4 separate regions of the Homo sapiens genome follow, and all the other regions are linked to region 1. Evidence: fine-mapped expression QTL. A gene starts in region 1. Each other region holds a variant in brackets. All regions are shown on one strand. Distances are between the middles of the regions.

Region 1 (5,151 bases):
ATGTGTAAATCAATAGTATAGATATAGTTTTTGTCTTCATTAAAGTTACTATAATCTTAAGCTACTAGTCTTAAAAGATTGTGTTATCTGTAGTATTGACATTTTAGACCAGTCCTTAAAAGTGTTGTTCCTACATGTAAACTAATTTTAGACCTGTTTAAAAAGAAACTCTCTTGATACTGTTTCCACCAGTCAGCAGTATTCACAATTTAGACCACAGGTCCAGGTTTAACACCTTGAAAACAGATACCAGGTAACAATAGCACAGTTGCAGCACACCTATGAAAACAGACACGATTTCATTCTGCTAAGGTCTGCCAAAAGCACGCTTGTTATGACAGTATAATGCTCTCTTAGCATCCCATAATGAAAGTGAAAATGTTTTGAAAGAACGAAACTCACTCCATCTCCCCCACCCCCAACTTTTTTGGGTCTCCGGCAAAGAAAATGGCAGCAAGTGACAATTCTTATAGACGGGTGCTATAAGAACCCAAAAGGAAAAAAGAAATGAGCTTGTCTTAACCAAAAAAAAAATGAATATCACTTTTTTAAAACAAAATCTTGCAGTCATTTTATGCAAAGCCTTTTAAAACCAGATTTGTGTGTACCAAGCAAACTTCTCAGAACACTGTCACACATTTCTTCCTAACACTTAGCCAGAATAGACACGGTTTCATCAAAATTTCCAAATGCTCTTGGGACAACCTTGAGGTGTCATCATTGGGCACCCACTGCAGGGCAGACACTAAGAAGGGGCTTTGCATTCATCCATCTATTCATTCATAACAATTTCTGGTGTTCTTACTAGGGACCAGGCACAGTTCTAGGTCCAAAATGTCCAAAAACAAAAATCCACTGCTCTTTTATCCTTAACTGAGGGGAGGTGTTGAGGAGCTGGGGAGACAGACTGAAAGTAAACAAATTCATATATAATAAAATCCAGCTGCATTAAGCATTAGGAAGAAAAAGAAGGCAGGGCAGGAGAATACAAAACGAGGGAGCAAGGTTTCTATTTTAGATACGGTAGTCAGGGGGTCTTTCTGAAAAGATGGCACCTGGGTTGTCCCTTGAGAAAGCCATAATTCACCCCCTTCCTGACAAGGTCAGCTGCTGCTCATTATTGAATCTCCAGCGCATAGCAGGTGTGTGGCTCCACTGTAGGTGTTCAGGAAATACCTGCCCAGTGGATGAGGAAGAACTGGAAGAGGAGTCCACGGCAGCAGCGGCCGGACACGGGGTGGGAGCGCCCGCCGTGCAATAATCATTGCACCACCGCACACCTCCCAAGGGATGGGCAACTTTTCCGAGCGCTGTCACAGCTGAGGTCGTGTCCTGAGCTCCCAGGCGCCCCGCGGGGTAAGCAGGACAGCCCTCTCCCTGCAGCAGGGACGCGGCCACCCCCAGCTCGCCTACCCTCTCCCACGGCCCTGCCAGCACGCCGCGTTCCGATCGGAAGGGAACAAGGGGTAGAAAGTGTTGCCGAAACTTTTCGGGCTGCGCTGTCCTCCCCCGGCCCGGAGGCGAGGACGCCGAACAGCCGCCCGGCGCGGCCCGAAGCTGGCTTCCGACCCGGCGGGGCGAGTCCCGGGGTGCGCAGGCGGACGCGCGGAGGGGCCGAGGTCTGTGCCACAGCGGAGCGGGGCCGGGGCGAGGGGCCGCGCCGAGACAAAGCGGCGGTGGCGGCAGGACCCGGGTCGGGGCCGTGCGCGGCGGGCCCCGCGCCCCCTCACCTGTCGAGCCAGAAGGTCCAGGACGAGTGCAGCGGGACCCCGCCCGGCTCAGGCTGCAGCGCCGACAGCTGCTGCAGGCCGAGCGGCGGCTCGGGGGCGGCGGCAGCGGCGGCGGCGCGGGACCCCGGCGGCTCCCGGGCCCCGGCGGGGGGCGCGGCGGCCGGGGGCAGCGCCATTTTCTCCGCCCCGCCTGCAAGGCCGGCGGACGCGCGGACCGCGGGGCGAGCGCGGCTGAGTCACCCCCGGCCCCCGCCCCGCCCCGCCCCGCGCGCCCCGCCCCGCCCCGGGCTAGCCGCCCGCCGCCCGCCGCCCGCCGCCCGCCGCCTTCAGGGCCTGGGAGCCGCGCGGAGGGGCCGTGGGAGGCACGGCCGGGCCGGGGCCGCCGAACAAAGACAGACCCACGGAGGGATGGGGGGCCGATCCCGCTCAGGCGCGGGCCCAGCGTGGGAGACTGACGGCCTGGCCTGGAGTGGCGGCCGGGGACGGGCTAGAGGGCCCACGGGGGTGAGAGGGACCGGGGAACGGTCTGCGGGCTGGCTCTGCAGCCATGCAAAAGGGCAGCGGGATGGAGCGGCAGGCTAGGGACAGATGGAGGGATGGATGGGACAGGGGATGGAGCCCCAGACCCACGTGGTGCGAGGGAAGGAGGGATGGACAGACATACCAGCAGTCAGAAGGATGGAGTGAAGGCTGGCAGATGGCTGGAGGAGAGAAGGAGGGATGGAGGGCAGATGGAAGCACAGTTGGGTGTGACAGATAAATGGAGAGGGGAACCGATGGCCAAATGGATAAAGAGACTCCAGTGCCCGCGAGTACAGAACAAAGGGCGAGAAAGAAGAACGAACAAGAGAACCACCGACTGGGGCATGAGGTTGGAGCAGGTGGGCTTTGCATTCCTCTTGGTGAGAGCATACTTCCTAACTCCGCTGATTTGAAGGGGCCAGAGCCCCCATCCCAACCTCTGGAGCTACCATGTGACCACAGTGAAGGCCTCAAGCCTGGCTTAACGTGTGGCTAACTTCAGAGAACATTTCCCAAAATCAGCCAAAGTATCCAGATCTGCCCTAAAGCACCGGCGAGTCGGGAGGAGGAAAGCGGGCACCTGTGAACACAGAGCGCTCTGCTTCCTGTACCTCTGAGCACCCAGGAAGTCCCTTAGGCGGTGAGATTCCTGAGCCCAAAGTAGGAGGGGCCCTCCTAACACAGCATCTCCCCAGGTCTCTGTCACTTTCTTTTTCAAAAGAAAAGCAAAGGCATGAGGCCTGTGAACACACATGTCACAACCAGCATGGACATCCTCTTTACACTTGAATTTCTAGATAGTTCCTCTCTGGCTTTGAACAGTGAAGGGCGTGGGATGCCATCTCCTCATTGACCTTCTACCTGGCCTAGCATGTGTTCTGTTCATGCCTTGAGCATTCGCTGGGATGGAAGAGCTACAAAACAAGATGAGTTCAGGGGCATCAACAGCATCATAGCAGACTGTCATGAATCCCAGAGTAGATGCCCTCCCTAAAAGGTAATCAAGGTCACATAAAGTGACAATAATAAAAACAAGACCGCTGCTTTAAACTTAACTTCTATACAACATACAATGCTGGAAGCAATGACAGATTTTATAAAATCTGTCCAACACTAAAACAGGGGAGGGTGCTTTTGGTTAGATGCATTTATCTTGTTGCTTAATATCTCCTTTCATTTTTCCAAGAAGCGTGGTATATGGCATTGTTTAAACTGCTCTGAGCACTTTACCCGTAATAACTCATTTAATCCTTACAATAAGCCAATGAGGAAGATACTATTAACCCATTTTACAGATGAGGAACAGAGATAAGATTAAGATAACCCCAAGGTCACAGAGCTAGTAAGTGGGACAGCTGGGATTTGAACATAGGTATTCAGACTCCAGAGTCTAGACTTTCAACTGCCAGACTCTCCTACCTCTCTACACAGAACACTAACAAGTCCACAACGTAAAAACAAGCTGTGAATAGTAGGTCTCCCTCCCTCCCAAGACTATCAATCTTCATTCCCAGAGGAAACCACTGGCAACAGTTTCCTTCCAGAAAAATGCAAGTATGCACATGCAAGCATATATCTAGATTCATAAGTTATAAATCTATATCTTTTTTATAACCAAAATGGAAGCATTTAATACCAATGCTGTACCTTCTTATTTCACTTAACATTATATCCTTGAAGATTTTTCCATATCAAAACATATAGATCTACTTTATCTTAAGGGCTGCAAAGTAATTCATTGTAAAGAGGTAATATAATTTAATTCACTAGCCTCCAACATTTATGTGGTTTCTAGACATTTTCTTATATAAATAATGCTACCATAAGTATTTTTATATTTATGGCTTTCTTCATCTACACAAGCTAATCTCAGAATAAGTTTGGAGAAGAATTGTTGGCTGCATTTAAAAATTTGATACATATTGCCAAATTGCTTTGCAAAGTGGTTACATGAATTTATATATAGCTGATATATAAATAATGGTTGATTCTGAAAATTTATATTTACGAAGTGACACATATCTGTATAAAATTCCAAGGCATGGGTAGAAAGGAAGTTTTGCTTTCTAATGATTAAAGCTAGTCAAACTGTCAAGTTTAGCTCCTTCCTTATGTCCTTTAACAATATCCTCAGCAAAAAAGGGCTAGTCAAGAATTTTTATCTGCAGTTTCTGTAAAAGGATTGTGTACCACATGAAAAAATTCCCTCCAGAATTTAGAACTAGGAACAGTCTGGCAGTTTTTCTTTACTGAATAGCAATTATATACCTTTCTCTCTTTTTGCTTTGGCTTCCAGGCTGCTCATAATTACATTTGGTGCTCAATCACAGCACCAATATTAGCCAATGAAGAAGCATCACTATTTTTATATTTATTCCTATTTCTATTTTAAAGACCTAATAGCATATATGCACCTTACACTGAACCCCTCAAATTTATTTTGGAAGTAGGTGGTATATATGAATAGATAAAATTTAAATGACCTTAAGATTAATAAAAGAGATTATACAAAATGGCTAAGGAGGGAACAATGGTCACAACTTTCATTCCCTTCCTGTTTGAAATATGTAAGAGACTTAATTATTTTTATTGCTCTTCAGAATCATTCTTAGAAGATAATAAATTGGGGAAATTTCCCTCATCTGGGAACTGGATGGCAGGAACTAGAATTTCAAGGTAGAAAGGGGATTCAGCGATCATCTAAGCAAACCCATCACTTTACAAATGAGGAAACTGAGGCCCAGAGAGGTGAGGTGACTTACCCGAGGCCACAGCTCTAGGAAATGACAGAGGCGGGACTAGAACGTGGGTAGCTTGAGGTCCGGACCAACGTGCTGTCCCACTGCATGACACGCAACACAGACGACTTGGGGTGGCAGAAGAGAGGAAGAGAAGGTGA
Region 2 (5,151 bases), 23 kb after region 1:
AGTACTTGTTATTATGAGTGAATAGTATTCCACTGTAGGGATATATGACATTTTATTTATCCATCCATTCATTCATTGACCTTTGTGTTGCTTTATCCTTTTGGTTATTAGGAATGACGATGTTATGAACATTTACATGTGGGCTTTCATGTGGACATGTTTTCATTTCTCTTGGGTAAATGCCTAGGCGTGAAATGGCTAGGTCATAAGGTAACTCTATGTTTAACTTTTTGAGGAGTTGCCAAATCATTTTCCAAACCAGCTGTATCATTTTCCACCCCCACCAGCATCATCTGAGGGTTCCAATTCCTCCATATCATCACCAACACCTGTTATCATCTACATTTTTGATAATAGCCACTATAGTAGATATGAAGTGGTATCTCAGATGGTTTGAATTGCATTGTCCTATTGACTAATGATGCAAAGTATCTTTCCATGTGCTTATTGGCCATTTACATTTCTTTTTAGAGAAATGCCTATTTAAAGCCTTTGTCCATTTTTAAAATTGGGTTGTCTTTTTTGAGTTATGAGTTCTTTATATACTCTGGATACAAGTCCCCCATCAGACACATTATCTGAAGACATTTTCTCCCATTCTGTAGGCGGGCCTTTCATTTTCTTGATGGTGTCTATTGAAGCACAAACCCTAAAAATTTTAATGAAATCCAATTTATGTATTTTTTTCTTTTGTCACCTATCCTTTTGGGAACATATCCAAGAAACCACTTCCTAATCTAAAGTCATGAAAATTTACTCCTATATTTTCTTCTAAGAGTTGTTATAGTTTTAGCCCTGAGTTTTAGGTCTATCATCAATTTTGAATTTTTTAAAATATATGGGGTGGGGTTGGGGCGCAATTTCATTCTCTTGCATGTGGAGAAAGAAAACCAACTGTTAAAGAGTTTTCACTAAACACATTTTGCTTAAATGAAGTTTAACAATATGCTATACATATACACATAAAGATATTCAGTTATTCATTCAACAAATACAGACAGCAAGCACAATATTTTGAGATATGCAGTGATCATTTTTCTTCCTCTATTTTTCCCTTTCCTTCCCAACATTCAAGTGGATAGCAGGCTCTGGGCTTCCTTGACTAGGAGAGGTTTACGGCAAGGTGGCTTCCCGGCTTTTATTTTTTCCAAACACCTGAATTTGGGGAACACAGCTTCCCAGGGAAATTGATTCCAGTTGACTCTTGAACAACATGGGTTTGAACTGCATGGGTTGGTTTATATGTGATTTTTTTTTTCAATCAAAACAAGATGGTAAATACAGTATTTGAGAGATGTGAAACCTGCATATATGAAGAGCTGACTTCTCATATATATGGGTTCTGCAGGGCTGGCTATGGGACTTCAGTATGCATGGATTTGGGTGCACGCGGAGGCCCTGGAACGAATTCCCTGTTTATACTGAGGGATGACTATAATTACATTGTCCAGAAGAACAAGGAAGAACTGGGTTTTCACCCTCTTCCAGAGTATATAGGGAGTCCCTGGAGATGAAGGTAGGAGGAGGAGAAGAGAAGGGTACTGAGAGAGAGGGGAGCTGCACCCAGTTTCTCAGATATACTGCTGAGAAGAATACCTGTGGATGCATCTAATATCAAATGCATCCTCAGCCCAGATTCTCACACCACAAGTCTGGCACAAGGCAGCCAAGAGTCACCAAACCACGATGGCTTGGAAGAACAGGAACGATATGCCAACAACTGATGAAATATGAGAAGGGACACCCCACACACATGCGCGCACTATCCTGAATGACCATATACTAGGCAATTTAGGCACCTGCCTGAAATTACAGTATATTCTGAGAAAGCAAGGACCCATGATGAAACCCAAGATGCACTAAGGCTACCTCTTTTTTTCCCCACCAGCAAGACAAAATGGCAACACAGAGTCAGAAATTAGGTTTCTAGGAAGCAGCTGCACTTCTTGCACTCTTGATTATATAGACTGACACTCATACTTGCCACATACATATTGAGAACCTACTGTGTACAGGGCATCCTGCTAGGTTAAGCTGAGGTGGGAAATACAAAAGTCAATTAAATCATGGTTAGCCAAGACATTTATATAGTCAGGTAAGAGCAAATATGCATAAGTGTAGTTAACCATTTATTGCACACGACTTGTGTGCACACCTTGTGCTACACTCTTTGTAAATGAATCTCATTTAATTGAATCTTCCCACAATGGGCTTTTGATATTCAGACGTTCAGAGCAGGCAAGAGACTTGCCCAATGAGCCAAAGTCTGGGCTCTTTACAGTTAGGTACAATCTGGTTCATGTACAACTACCACTAATGCACAGCTAGTCAGTGGTGGAAACTGGACATGAACCAGAGTGGTCCTCACC[G/A]CAAGGCCCACTTTCATTGTCAAAGTTATGACTTCGTCCCATGGGGAGGTCAACTTGAGTGCTGCCCTTTGATAATCCAACATCCACTGGGCCTAGACTTTGGCTCACTTTTTCTAAGAGTTGGGATGGAGTTAAGTCAAACCAACCTTCTCTAACTTGGTGTTTAATGTACCTATTGGCAGGTGACTGGCCAGAAGCCTGAGGTTAAACAGGATACACTGGCCAGACTGGACCTCATGATTAGGGAACCCATGACCTTGACTGTATCTGCCAAAGGGTGCCAACCAGTTCCTCTGAACAGTCAGGATTTCTAGTACCATTCACACCATCTATACGTACATCAAAGAAGTGACATAAATGATTTGGGGAGTGGGGGTGGGAAATACTTTTGTTTCTATGTCCAAAAGGAATAATTTGATTATACAAGAATAATGGAAATTTTCTTATAGGAAAAAAATGTCATAGAGCTGTTTTGCTTTGAGATGAAGGCATGCAATTTGGTGCCTAAGAAAGCATTTAAAATTCTTGCCTGCAGCTTCCTAGAAACAGTAAAAGGAAAATACGTTGATCCTGGCCAATGAAATGTGAACAGTTTTTCCTTAAGTATTAATCTACTGAACAAATGTTGATAATGAAAGAAGTAGGCATATAAATGCTGTGAGAGAACCATGATTTATGTATTTTCTACTGCTGCTTCTGCTATTTGAGCCTGGGAAAATGACTAAACCAAATCTCAAGAGCAGCATTTTGCACCGTAGATAGAAACAGAAAACAGAAAATTTTAAGTTATAAGGAATTAATAATGTCTCTTCTTTTGTGTCCTTTTCTGAAAAATAAATCTCTCCCCATTTGGGAGACATAATCACTTAACTTCCATTTCCTTATACCTAAACTCAACTTCAGAGCCCAGGACCCTCAGAAATCATTTGGTCCAACGTCCCATTTCATAAATGGACACATTTGAGATTCCAAGAGGTTAAGTGACTTGTCGAACACCATGTGCTCATTAGAATAAAAAATATGAAGATTTAAAGTGGAAGGTAGTGACCTAGGAGTGGGAGGACCTGGGTTCTCCCTCCCACTCAGCTATTCATGAGCTTCTCTGTTTGTAAAATTCAAGTGTTAGGATTAGATGGTTTTGAAAAATCCTTCCCTCTCGAAAGGGGTTATAATTCTGTGCCCGGGAGCATCAGTAGTTTGTGTATGTTAGTTTACTGCTTTTATAAACTCAAAAGCTTTCTTCACAGTTATAACAAAGAGGCAGTGTTTGTGGAGATCATGAGGATGGACTCTAAACACAGAGTTCCTCAGCTGGGTGTGGTGGCTCACGCCTGTAATCCCAGCACTTTGGGAGGCTGAGGTGGGAGGATCACTTGAGCCCAGGAGTTCTAGACCAGCCTGGGAAACATAGGGAGACCCCATCTCTACAAATAATTGGTTTTTTTTTTTTTTTGAGACGGAGTCTCGCTCTGTTGCCCAGGCTGAAGTGCAGTGACACGATTTCGGCTCACTGCAAGCTCCGCCTCCCGGGTTCATGCCATTCTCCTGCCTCAGCCTCCTGAGTAGCTGGGACTACAGGCGCCTGCCACCATGCCCAGCTAATTTTTTGCATTTTAATAGAGACGGGGTTTCACCGTGTTAGCCAGGATAGTCTCGATCTCCTGACCTCATGATCCACCCGCCTCGGCCTCCCAAAGTGCTGGGATTACAGGTGTGAGCCACCGCATCCGGCCTCTACAAATAATTTTTTAAAAATTAGCGGGGCATGGTGGTATAAGCCTGTGGTCCCAGCTACTCAGGAGGCTGAGATAGGAGGACGGCCTGAGCCTGGGAGGTTGAGGCTGCAGTGAGCCATGATGATGCCACTGACTCCAGCCTAGGTGACAGAGTGAGACCCTGTTTCAAAATAAATAAAGTCAGACTTCCAGCTCTTACACTTACTTGAAAGTAAGTGTAAAGTAAGTGTAAGTGGTGAAAGCGTGAACAAATTAACCCTTCTGCCTCCTCTGCAAAATGAAGACAGTAACAGCACATACCACATCTGGCCATTACAATGATTACATTAAATAACACATGTCGAGAATTTAGCACAATGCTTGGCATACGGCAAGTGCTCAGTAAAAGGTGGCTGCCATTAGTATTACCATAAAGCAACCAGAGTTGGTGAATTTGTGTGGGTTATTAAGAAGGCATTCCCTCCTCTGGGCAGAGGCAGCCCAAGCGCTAAGGGCCACAGCAAGGCAGGATCGAATTCTCTACAGCCATGGGTCTAACTTTAAACAAAGAAATAAGAAACCATTTCCTACCCTCCCTTGCTCAAGTGCTCACTCTCAATTGATAGCCAATGATATGTTTAAGTGTTTGTTTATAATGTAGGGCTTCTAGAAAGCTCTTCCTACTTAGATGGCTGGAATATTGCTGCTCTTTTCCCTTTTCTTCTTTCTGCCTGGAATGAAGAAATGATGGCTGGGGCGTCGGCAGCCTACTGTGATCATGAGGGAAGGGCTAAAAGATTTTCAGAGATTCAGTCCTTGAGCCAATAAATCAATGTCAGCAACTACTGACCTCCAAACTTCTTCTTTCACGAGGAAAATAAACTCATGTACACGTTTTTTGCTACTAGTATCAAACTGCAATTCCTAACCCATACACCCTCCAAAATCTATTTTCTATCAACATACATTTACAGATGTGCCTGGTCAGCCACTTGCTGCTGGCCACTTAGGAGTCCCAAGTCAGGTGCTCAATAGTTGATTTTCTTGAAAAATCACTTAGATTTTTA
Region 3 (5,151 bases), 42 kb after region 1:
GGAGGCTGAGGCAGGAGAATCGCTTGAACCTGGGAGGCAGAGGTTGCAGTGAGCCGAGATTGCGCCACTGTACTCCAGCCTGGCAACAGAACAAGACTCCGTCTCAAAAATAAATAAATAAATAAAAAATAACAAAATGAAGTATAAAGTATAAAAAACATGATGCACTTTTGAAGAGAATGATTCCACTTTTTGGTTAGTAGAGGTGGGAGTGCTTTAACAAAGTTACAACGGTGGCATGATTGTCTCTCTCTAATATGAGGTGACTGCTTTTGGAGGTTATCCAGGGACCCACGTTGGTGGGTCAGCTCTACTATCTTTCCCAATTGCCTTCACTCTCTGCAAAGCAGACAGGTTCATTATTGCATCTCCTTATTGGAGAGGAAGTGGAGTTTTCTTTTAAGTAAATGTGGCAGATCACTTCTGTTCACGTTTCATCGCTAAGAATTTACATTACATGGCCACACTTGGGCAGCTGGTAAATGCAGTCTCCAGTCTCTAGATGTCTAGATGGGTGGTCATGTACCCTGCTAAAACAGAGAGAGAGAGAGAGAGAATATGAGAAGTAATGAATAAATGTGAGAATAAAAGAACTGTGGAAGACAATTAAGAGTCTACCAGTTTTATTAAATATCTTCCATGTAGAAATTTTTCCTCTTCTAACCAGATTCAAAAAAATTAATACAGAATATTCACATTTGCTGTTTAAAGCAAATGTGACTAATTTCAGGCACCATTCAGCTCCTATAAACCAATCACAGCACCACAGTTAGACATAAACTTCTCTAAGTCTCCTATGTTTTGAGTCGCAAAATATTTTCTTTTAAATTTCTATACAGGAGCAAACGTTCATTCACATACACATTCTGGGCCTGAAATATTTTGCTCCTCCATTTCAAACGCCTATTTTGGATTTCAAAAATATATCTCAAGAGCAAATATTTAAGAGTACAGGCTGAAGATGTATTGATAACATACAGAATGTGGCTGGCTGTCTTTTCCATATGAAATAGTGACCAGTGGACCTTGTCAAGAAAGGACAAAATTGATTCACTTCAACACAATACAGAAGGGGTGGAGGTAGGTGGGGCGGTAGAGGTAGAAGACGCTTGGCATCAAGATGATAAATGCTGATGAGACACTGAATGATGGATAGATGAGACTGCTTTACACTCCTTTACTTTTATGTTTAAAAATTTCAATAATACAAAGTTTTTGTTGATTTGCTTGTTTGCTTTTAAGAATGAACCAAATGCATCCCTGCCAGCCTCAGTCTTGTTTGCACGGAAAGACTACATGTGAACTTCTCAGCAATTATTCAACTGTTTAACTTAATAAAGCACAATTGCCCCCAATTTTGCTTGTAAAGCTTTTACATTTCTGCAAAACAATTTTCCATTAGTTATATCACATTTTAATCAAGATGATTAAAATTTAGATTTAAACAGTGTGGAAATGTGTTAGAAGTATACTCTAAAGATGTGAAGTTGGCCGGGTGTGGTGGCTCATACCTGTAATCCCAGCACTTTGGGAGGCTAAGGTGGGAGGATCACTTGAGCCCAGGAGTTCCAGACAAGGCTGGGAGACACATTTCCTCAAAAAAAAAAAAAAAAAAAAAAAAAAAAAAAAAAAAAAAGATGAAGGGCTCAGATTAATTATTAATTCAATCATAAATTAGATGAATAGATGAATATCAGATGAATTATATAGCATCTTTTTTCTTTCTTTTTTTTTTTTTTTTTTGAGACGGAGTCTCACCCCGTCTCCCAGGCTGGAGTGCAGTGGTGCGATCTTTGCTCACTGCCACTTTTGCCTCCTGGGTTCAAGCAATTCTCCTGCCTCAGCCTCCCGAGTAGCACCAAGCCCGGCTAATTTTTGTATTTTTAGTAAAGATGGGGTTTCACTATCTTGGCCAGGCTGGTCTTGAACTCCTGACCTTGTGATCCACCCGCCTCGGCCTCCCAAAGAGTCCTTCATCTTAAACTTTATTTTAAAGAGTGACTATAAAAATTTCTTCCTTGAAACACAGTAAACTATAGAGCTGACAGATAACTGATTTTTTTATTGAATATGTAAATTATATCAAATGTTTTACCCTTCCACTA[CT/C]TTTTTTTTTTTTCTGAGACACAGTCTTGCTCTGTCACCCAAGCTGGAGTGCAGTGGCTTGATCTTGGATCAAGGCAACCTTCACCTCCTGGGTTCAAGCAATTCTTGTGCCTCAGCCTCCTCAGCAGCTGGGATTATAGGCATGCACCAGCACACCTGTAATCCCAGCTACCTGTTTTGCCATGTTGGCCAGGCTGGTCTTGAACTCCTGCCCTCAAGTGATCAGCCTCCCAAAGTGCTGGGATTACAGGTGTGAGCCACTGGCATGCCCAGCCCCATCCACTATTTTGGATACAAAATATTTTGCTTGTTTTTTAGGATACTTATTTTGCAGTGTCACATTTGGAGGTTTTAACTTTTTAAATACTGTCTTTTCAACTTTTTATACTGAAATAAAAACATATTATTATCAAGTGAAGTCAAGCAGACACAAAATAGCTTTAGACTAAAGCAGTAGTTTTCAAAGGGGGACAATTTATCCCCACCTGCAACCTGCAGAGGACACTTGGCAATGTCTAGAGACGTTTTTGGTTGTCGAAACTTGGGGAGTGTTACTGGAACTAGTAGCCAGGCATGCTGCTAAACATCCTACAATGCACAGGAGAGTCCTGCACAACAATAAATTATGTGGCCCAGGGCCAGGAGCAGTGGCTCATGCCTGTAATCCCAGCACTTTGGGAGACTGAGGTGGGCAGATCCCTTGAGGCCAGGAGTTCAAGACCAGCCATGGCCAATATGGTGAAACACTGTCTCTACTAAAAACACAAAAATTAGCCGGGCATGGTGGTGCACGCCTGTAGTCCCAGCTACTCGGGAGGCTGAGGCAGGAGAACCACTTGAACTCAGGAGGCAGAGGTCGCAGTGAGCAGAGATCATGCCACTGCATTCCAGCCTGGTGACAGAGCAAAACTCTGTCTCAAAAAAAAAAAAAAAAAAAAAAAAAAAAAAAAAAAAAAGTGGCCCAGAAAGTCACTAGCGTTGAGATGGAGAAACTCTGGAGTAATGTGAGAGTGCCTGGAACTGTTCACCATGGTTGTCACTCCATGGAGAAGGCCATCGTTTTGCCCAGCTGGCACAACTGCATGAGTCGGCATTCCAGGCTTTATGATGAGGGAATCTCCACAGGGGCACAAGAATGCTTAAATATGCGTTAGCCTCTGCATTTTGTTGCCAGCCATCGTGTTGCCTATACCACAATTTCCTACTTTTTTGCTTTTAATCTTTTATGACAAATATCTATTTTATTGAAATGCTTACCATTCTGATTTATTCAGTTACAGTGTGGTGCAATATTGGGCTTTCTAAAGCACTTAGATGATTTATGGACCCAGCAAAATAGAATGAAATCCTGAGATGTATGCGGAAGGGGCTGGGAGAGGGGAGTGCCTGCTAGGGAGTTTTGAAGCTGGGTCACCCCGGAGGGTGCACTAGAGGATGTGAGAACTCATGAAACCCAGGGAGCTGTGAGGCTAGCCAGGTTGGACTGGGGCCTGCTTCCCTAATCTAATTCTAGGGAACTTCACATGAATTCTTCAAATGGGCTAATTGCTGCTGGGAATTCTCCAGTGGGACCCCTCTGTGTGCTTCCCTCTAGAATGAAAGGGAACTGGTGCTGAGGACCACAGGAACTTTTGAGGGTAAGAAATTCAAAGACACTCAGCTACTATCCTCATTTCTAATTCAACTAGGAAGGTGTCTCATCAAATAGTGTCACTGGGTACCAGTAACCTTTCTATAGGAACACAGTCCTGTATTGGTTCTCAGTGGCTCTCAACTATGGATGTACCTTGCAATTAATCAGGGAGCTTTAAAAAAAATCCTAACACTTAGGCCTCATCCTATAAAAATCAAATCAAAATTTTTCAGAGTGGTGGGTGATGGAAAAAATGGGAACTGTACTTCAAGAACAGCATCATAATTGCATGTCTAATTTTGGGAAATGTGTACTCTGAAAGTACCCTAAAAATATATACACATATGCATATATATATATATATATATATATATATATATATATATATATATGGGGGATAATAAAGTTTATTTAAAGATCATGTTGTTAAAGACTGTCATCTTTGAAATACATTAAAAAATCCTGGAACGAAGATATATCATACAACACAGTGACTACAGTTAATACTGTATACTTGAAAATCACTAAGAGATATTAACTGTTCTCATTGCAAAATAATGATGTGTGAGGTAGTCTATACATTAATTAGCTCAATTTAGCATTCCACAATGTATCCATATTTCAAAACATCATGTTGTATACCATAAATAAATACAATTTTTGTCAATTAAAATTTGTGAAAATGCTGGAAGAAACTGAGTTCTCTTTAACACAAAAGGGAGTGAGAATTAACAACTTTGGGAAAGATATCAGAGACTAATTCTGAGGATATTATCAGAAAGACATAGCAACATGGAGGTGGAAACACCATAAAAGGTTGCTAGTGAATTGCACAGGGACCCTTACTGAATACCAAAAGTGTCTGGTTTTTAAAGTTAAAATGGCCCCCAGCTTTAACCTTCTAAAAATGAAGCTAGAAAAGTGTGGGATGAGGTTTCTAATATTGAAACCAATGAAGAGGAAAATTGGGCTATGTGTTTGATCTATCACTGAACTGACTTTATAAAAGGCTCTAACAAAAGAACTACATTGAAATACTGAGAAGAATAAAGGTTCTCAGTGAGATAGGAGGGTTTATAGGAAATAGTTTCGGCATAAACTTTTCTATGGTTAAAAAAATGTTGCTTCTGATAAAAGGCAAAACAAAGTCAGAAATGATAGTTTTCATGAAAGTCAATGTTTGCAAAGAAATCCGAAGGTCCAGTAGGGTTTGGGCATCATCTTCTAGCATAAGATTTCTTTCTACCTTGGAATGAAGGGAATTCATTCATGATATTTTCAAAGTAGACTGTGGATTTAGTTTTTCTCGTGTAAATTTTCATCTTGCCTTACTTTGTGGAAATTCTGGTCTATGAAGTCCCAGCATGTGTGTGAGACAATCCTAGGAACTGGAAGAAACATCATAGCCTTTT
Region 4 (5,151 bases), 22 kb before region 1:
AAGCAGCACGAGTAAAATAGCAATTAGAAAAATCAATCCTAGGGCTCATGAACTGAGTCACATGGGTGGAATAGAATTTTAGCTATGTTGAATGATAATCCTGCTGGGTTGTTCAAGCCTGTTTTGTGTTAAAAAAATAATAAAGCTGAATTAACTGCAAAGGTGGCAATGATGAACTATAAGATCAAATTGAAGGCAAAAAACTACAGGATGACAGATGTATTAATTGAGAATCCACTTTGGCTCCCTTCTACTAAAATGGTGCTAGTGTAGTGAGGAGTTAAAAGCTACTGTATTAACAGTAGCTCCTCAAACACCCATCTGCCTCTATGGAGGTACCTATCCTGTAAATGCTTTGCTATTTGTACAAATAAGATTATTCCAATATTTCAGTTTCTGTGGTGTGAGGGTGGGTAGGCAGGGCTGGAATCTGAATCCAGGCAATTTGATTCCCAAACCTCTGTTCCTAACCACTCAGCTATTTTCTTCGAAGATACTACTATATGTTTTTGACACATCTTTCTCCAATCTTAGCAGCCAAGAATCAGGTCATGAAGCCACAGAAAGAGGGACACATGTTGAAGATATTTTCCCACCAGTAAAATGCCCATAATTCACAAGAGGCTGGTGGTTGTCAACTCCAGCCTGAGAACCTGGTTACGATGTGGCAATGACCTCTGTAGAATTTATGCACAAAATAACATTAAGAGGAAAACCCCTGCCTAAGGTAAAACTAAGAGGACTTTGGTGCTGGCAAACTTCAAGTCTCCTCAAAGGCATCACAAACCAAAGTTCCTGCCGTCATACCCCGGTCAAAGTTGTCAAATCTTGACTTTTTAACCTAGTACTTGAAGCACACTGAAAAAATACAACAAAACACTTCTTCCATTTCAAAGATCAGAAAAACACTAAAGATCATGCTAAGGATTGGAGCTTTAGAAGCTTCTCTTGAAAACAAAAACAGACAACTGATTCTGCTTGGCTTGGCAAATTTGACAGGAAGAGATTACAGCCCAAGAAGATCAGTGATAGACTTAACATATTCATTAAAGCACATATTTGTACGTTTTTGCTGAGCATAAAATAGGAGCAAAATATCCGGTCACACCATTAAAAAAAAAAAAAAAAGCCCTATTTGAAAAGCATGTGTCATTAAACTGGTCTGTTTCCCTGTTGCAAACCTCATCCAATAGGTAGAATATTTGTGAAGTATGTCTGCTGGTGAAATACCTACAGGAAGGAATCTAGCATTACTCAGCTCCTGAAAACCTCTTCCGCCCTTGCAGAAGTGAAAGGTCTGCTACAGCGGAAGCCTGGTAATTCAAGATTATACTCTCTGTAACACATCTTGAAAATGGAAACACTTAAATTTTACTATATATAAAATCTTGCAAATAGATTTCAGAAGCCTTTAGGCTTATAATTAATTCTGTTAGACTTGCAAATCCAAGATTGCAGTAAAAGTAAAACTAAGCACAATGTTTATTAATGATGGTTAAATGCTTTTTTTTCCCAAAAGCCTTGATAATCACCCTAAGACTAGGAGAGGTATAAAAGTTGAACATCATTCATTCAGTCAACATCTGTGACCATCAGTTGTGAACAGAGCACTGTGACGGGTCCTTGGGGAACTTAGCTGAATGCAGGAGGGTCAGCTTTTGACCACAGCAATCCACTCCTTGGGAGGTATGTTCTGGAACACCAATCTGGCACCTCTCCTGGAGAAACTGAGGCAGGGAAGACACCTGTCCAGTGGAGTCTAATACCTGGATTTAAGACCTAGGTTCTCAGCATAACCTTCACAGGTCATGTAGCCCGTGAAACCCACGTTGCCTCCTCTGTATAAGGATACAGCTATTTCACTGGAAAATGTAATGATGAAATGCAAAGTGAAAGCACTTGCTAGGCCTAAGGAAGGAAACAAAGTATGGTTAGACCCATTAATATGCTGACCACTTGATAAATCCCCAATCTGATAGCACTGATTGGAGCAACTATGCCCCACCTTACAGCCTTCTGCCAAATAGATAATCATTCATTACCAAGAAAACTGGCAAATTTCCTCCTCAATTTCCTACTGAAATGTTCTGAAGAAAAAGAATGCACTTGGAAATTCTTCAGAAGAAAAGATGTCATGTGTTGACAGACAACAAAGTGATATGTCTGTTTTGTAAAACAAACCAGAAACAAAACCACCCAGCAAACACACATCAAAAAAAAAAAAAAAAAAAAAAAATTCCAGGATTTATTCCAAGGTTGTGGCATGTGTAGCAAGAGAGTATTTCCAAAAAAACAAAACAAATATTTTTGCTCATTAGGTATTACTAGTTGCCTGGGGCTTCCCACCAACTGAATAAGTGGTATTTATGGGCAGGGCCAATAGGCATCTGAACCGAATAGGCAACTGAAGAGTTTAATGGATGTTTTTAACTCACAGCAGACACAAAGGCTGAAAGCAAAGTGCTTCTGATTTACAAGAGCTAGGTACTTGAGAGAGAAATGGGTTTTCCTTTGAATTCCAAAAAGGGCTTGGCTTAAAGAGAGAGCCCAAGTGTGGAGTTGTGATCATAGAGTAAACGAGATGTGACAGGATGTGAGGGTAATTTCCCACCACATAGAAAGTTAGTAAAAACCAACTCTGAGTTGGGGAGTTAAAAGCTTGGAGAGAGAGGACAGTGGGGTTAAAACCCTGAAAGGATGGGAGAGAGCCCCACCCAAAGATTGGGGATGCCTAGACCAGAGGAGTGTGGAACCTGCTTCCTGGTACAGCCCAAGAGGCTCCAAGACTCCCAGAAAAGGCCCTCATTCCTACAGCGCTGAGCAACATGGCGGTCAGGTCTGAGAACAGCTGTGAAGGCAGGAGGGGTTATTCTGGCCGGGAGGGCCTGCCACAACCTTATAGAGTTCCCCTCATTCTGGTGGGGTCGGGGGAAGGCAGCCAACATTTCCTAAATCTCCAATCTGGAGCTTGAAATTGCTAGAAAGCCTAAG[G/T]ACAACAGGGCCTGGGGTCTGGATGTGTGTGTACATAGCAGGGGTCTTCATAACATGAGGTTACAGCAGGGCCAAAGGTGGTGGGCATGGCCCAAGGTCAGGAGGGGTCAGGGGTATTTCTGCATATGCCTGTTCATATGGAGAAGGAGAAGAGGGTGGTCATTTTTCCCAAAAGAGATTTAAATTAGAAGAGACCCAGTTTCACAGTTGAAGTGACTAAATTACTTTTAATTAACAAGGTCAAGTCTCACCCCACCCAATACACAGACACAACAGCCTCCACTGAGAATGTGGAGGAATACAAGCAATTTAACTTCAGTTATATTTCTTCATAACTGGATTGTAGCTATAGATGTTGATCCTATTATGCATATAATGAATAAACTAAATGATGGATAAAGAATCTTGTTATACTGGATGCAAAGTCTGTGCTAGACAGAACTATGAAGTGGACCTGGCTGCAGGTCCTTCTCTTTCTCTTTTCAGTGTTGGCTTTCCTCCTCTCTCCCCTCAGGCCCCTCCCTTCAGCCAAGTGGTTCACTCCAGGTCATTCTATTGCAGGACACCACACACCATGGGCTGTCTTGCTGTGTCCAGGGCAGCAAGTACTTGGAATCAATCTTTCCACCATCCTCCATGATCAATACTGACCTAGAAAACCTCTTCTTCTGAAGGAAGAGCCCTCATTTCCCAAGGGTTTGGAAAGCAATCTGCTGCCCTAACTTAACTGCACAACTCCAGTCAGGCGGCTTGACCTGCGGATATGAAGTCTTGATATTATCGACAGCACACAGGATAGGTTTGGCATATGCAGGGGAAACATTTTCTTAATTTCAATAGGTTATATATACTCTTTAGGAAGACTTTCTGCTTATGATAAACGATGCTGAATTTCCACTTATAGAGGAAATATGGTTTCTGTTTTATGCAAATTTAAATAAGAAGTCAAGTTATAAGAAATACTGGGTAGAATGTACCACAAGTGAGATAGGTGTGGCAAAATCTTTAAGGCGATACACCAAATAACTGATGTTCGAGACAGAGTGCTGTACAGGAATGAGTTTTCAGGGGTGGAATTTTTAGTCTTGTAGCAGATAAGGCTGAAAGAAACTGGAGAAGGGAGACTTCTCTTGCAAATCACAAATGGCAGGTAGCTCTTCATTCTCCAACAGGTAAAACAGGGCTTGTTCAAAAGCCGTGTTCTATTTTTTTTTCTCCCAGAGATGTGGGTCTTGCCATGTTTCCCAGGCTGAACTCGAACTCTTGGGCTCACGCAATCCTCCCACCTCAGCTTCCTGAGTAGCTGAGATCACAGGCATGAGCCAATGCACCCGGCTAAAAGCCATTTTCTATTCTGCACTGCAACCACTGAGGATGCAAAATCACAAGAGAAATGTGGAAAATTTGGACAGGTTCACAAAGGAGTAAGAGAATCAATAAGCATCTGGAAAATACGCCTAGATGTAAAATGGAATTTTCCAAGAAAGTTAGGAAAGTAGAAATGAATTTAACTCCAGGCAGAGAGAATTATTGTTAGGTGTGATGAAAGTGTCCTCAGCAGGGGTTCCCAGGTCCTTTGGAGGCTGAGTCTCCTCCACTCCTCAATCACGGGGAGTAAAAGAAAGAGAATTGGACTGGGAGGGAATTCTAGTCCTAGAGGCAAGGCATGACTGGCTCTTTCCAATCATGGAATGTTTGGGCCTCTTACCTCCAGCCTCAGTCTCCTCAACTAATAGACGGGGTAACGATTCCTCTCCCAAACCATCTACTTTGATTTGCTAAAGGGCCTCAAAGTATAAAAAGACTCATATGTCTTTAATAAGACAATCATTAATATCACATGATTTTTACCTTTCATCTAAACACATATGGGAGGAAAACACAGACATAATTGGAGAAGCAGTTTTTTTTAGTGCTAATGGAGTGAGAGTAAAAGGATCAACGTACAGGCCAAAGTGGTTCATGCCTGTAATCTGAGCACTTTGGGAGGTCAAGGAGGGAACACAGCTTGAGGTCAGAAATTCGAGACTAGCCTGAGCAACATAGCAAGACCCCATCTCTACAAAAAAAATAAAATAATTTAGCTGGGTGTGGTAGCACATGGCTATAGTCCCAGATACTTGGGAGGAGGCTGGGGTGGGAGGATCTCTTGAGACCAGG

The links. PIP is the estimated chance that this variant, and not a neighbour inherited with it, causes the effect. A credible set is the group of variants that fine-mapping cannot tell apart.
Region 2: its variant is the best candidate, but not a certain one, in a credible set for the expression of EIF4E3 in whole blood (TOPMed, PIP 0.89).
Region 3: its variant is the best candidate, but not a certain one, in a credible set for the expression of EIF4E3 in prefrontal cortex (CommonMind, PIP 0.64).
Region 4: its variant is the best candidate, but not a certain one, in a credible set for the expression of EIF4E3 in whole blood (INTERVAL, PIP 0.88).

The regions. Positions count from the first base shown.
Region 1 is chr3:71,723,462-71,728,612 of GRCh38, forward strand. EIF4E3 (eukaryotic translation initiation factor 4E family member 3) reads right to left here and starts at 1,941. Exons shown (of 7, transcript NM_001134651.2): 1 at 1,731-1,941. The coding sequence starts at 1,906. RefSeq lists silencers at 1,346-1,465, 1,596-1,665.
Region 2 is chr3:71,746,960-71,752,110 of GRCh38, forward strand. It overlaps a transcript of EIF4E3 not described here. Among named protein-coding and RNA genes, the nearest start is that of GPR27, 4.3 kb to the right of the region's middle. The variant G/A (reference allele first, on the strand shown) is at 2,370.
Region 3 is chr3:71,765,417-71,770,567 of GRCh38, forward strand. No RefSeq gene overlaps it. Among named protein-coding and RNA genes, the nearest start is that of GPR27, 14 kb to the left of the region's middle. The variant CT/C (reference allele first, on the strand shown) is at 2,106.
Region 4 is chr3:71,701,600-71,706,750 of GRCh38, forward strand. The region is part of intron 2 of EIF4E3 (eukaryotic translation initiation factor 4E family member 3); the gene reads right to left. Among named protein-coding and RNA genes, the nearest start is that of EIF4E3, 21 kb to the right of the region's middle. RefSeq lists an enhancer at 2,177-2,758. The variant G/T (reference allele first, on the strand shown) is at 2,992.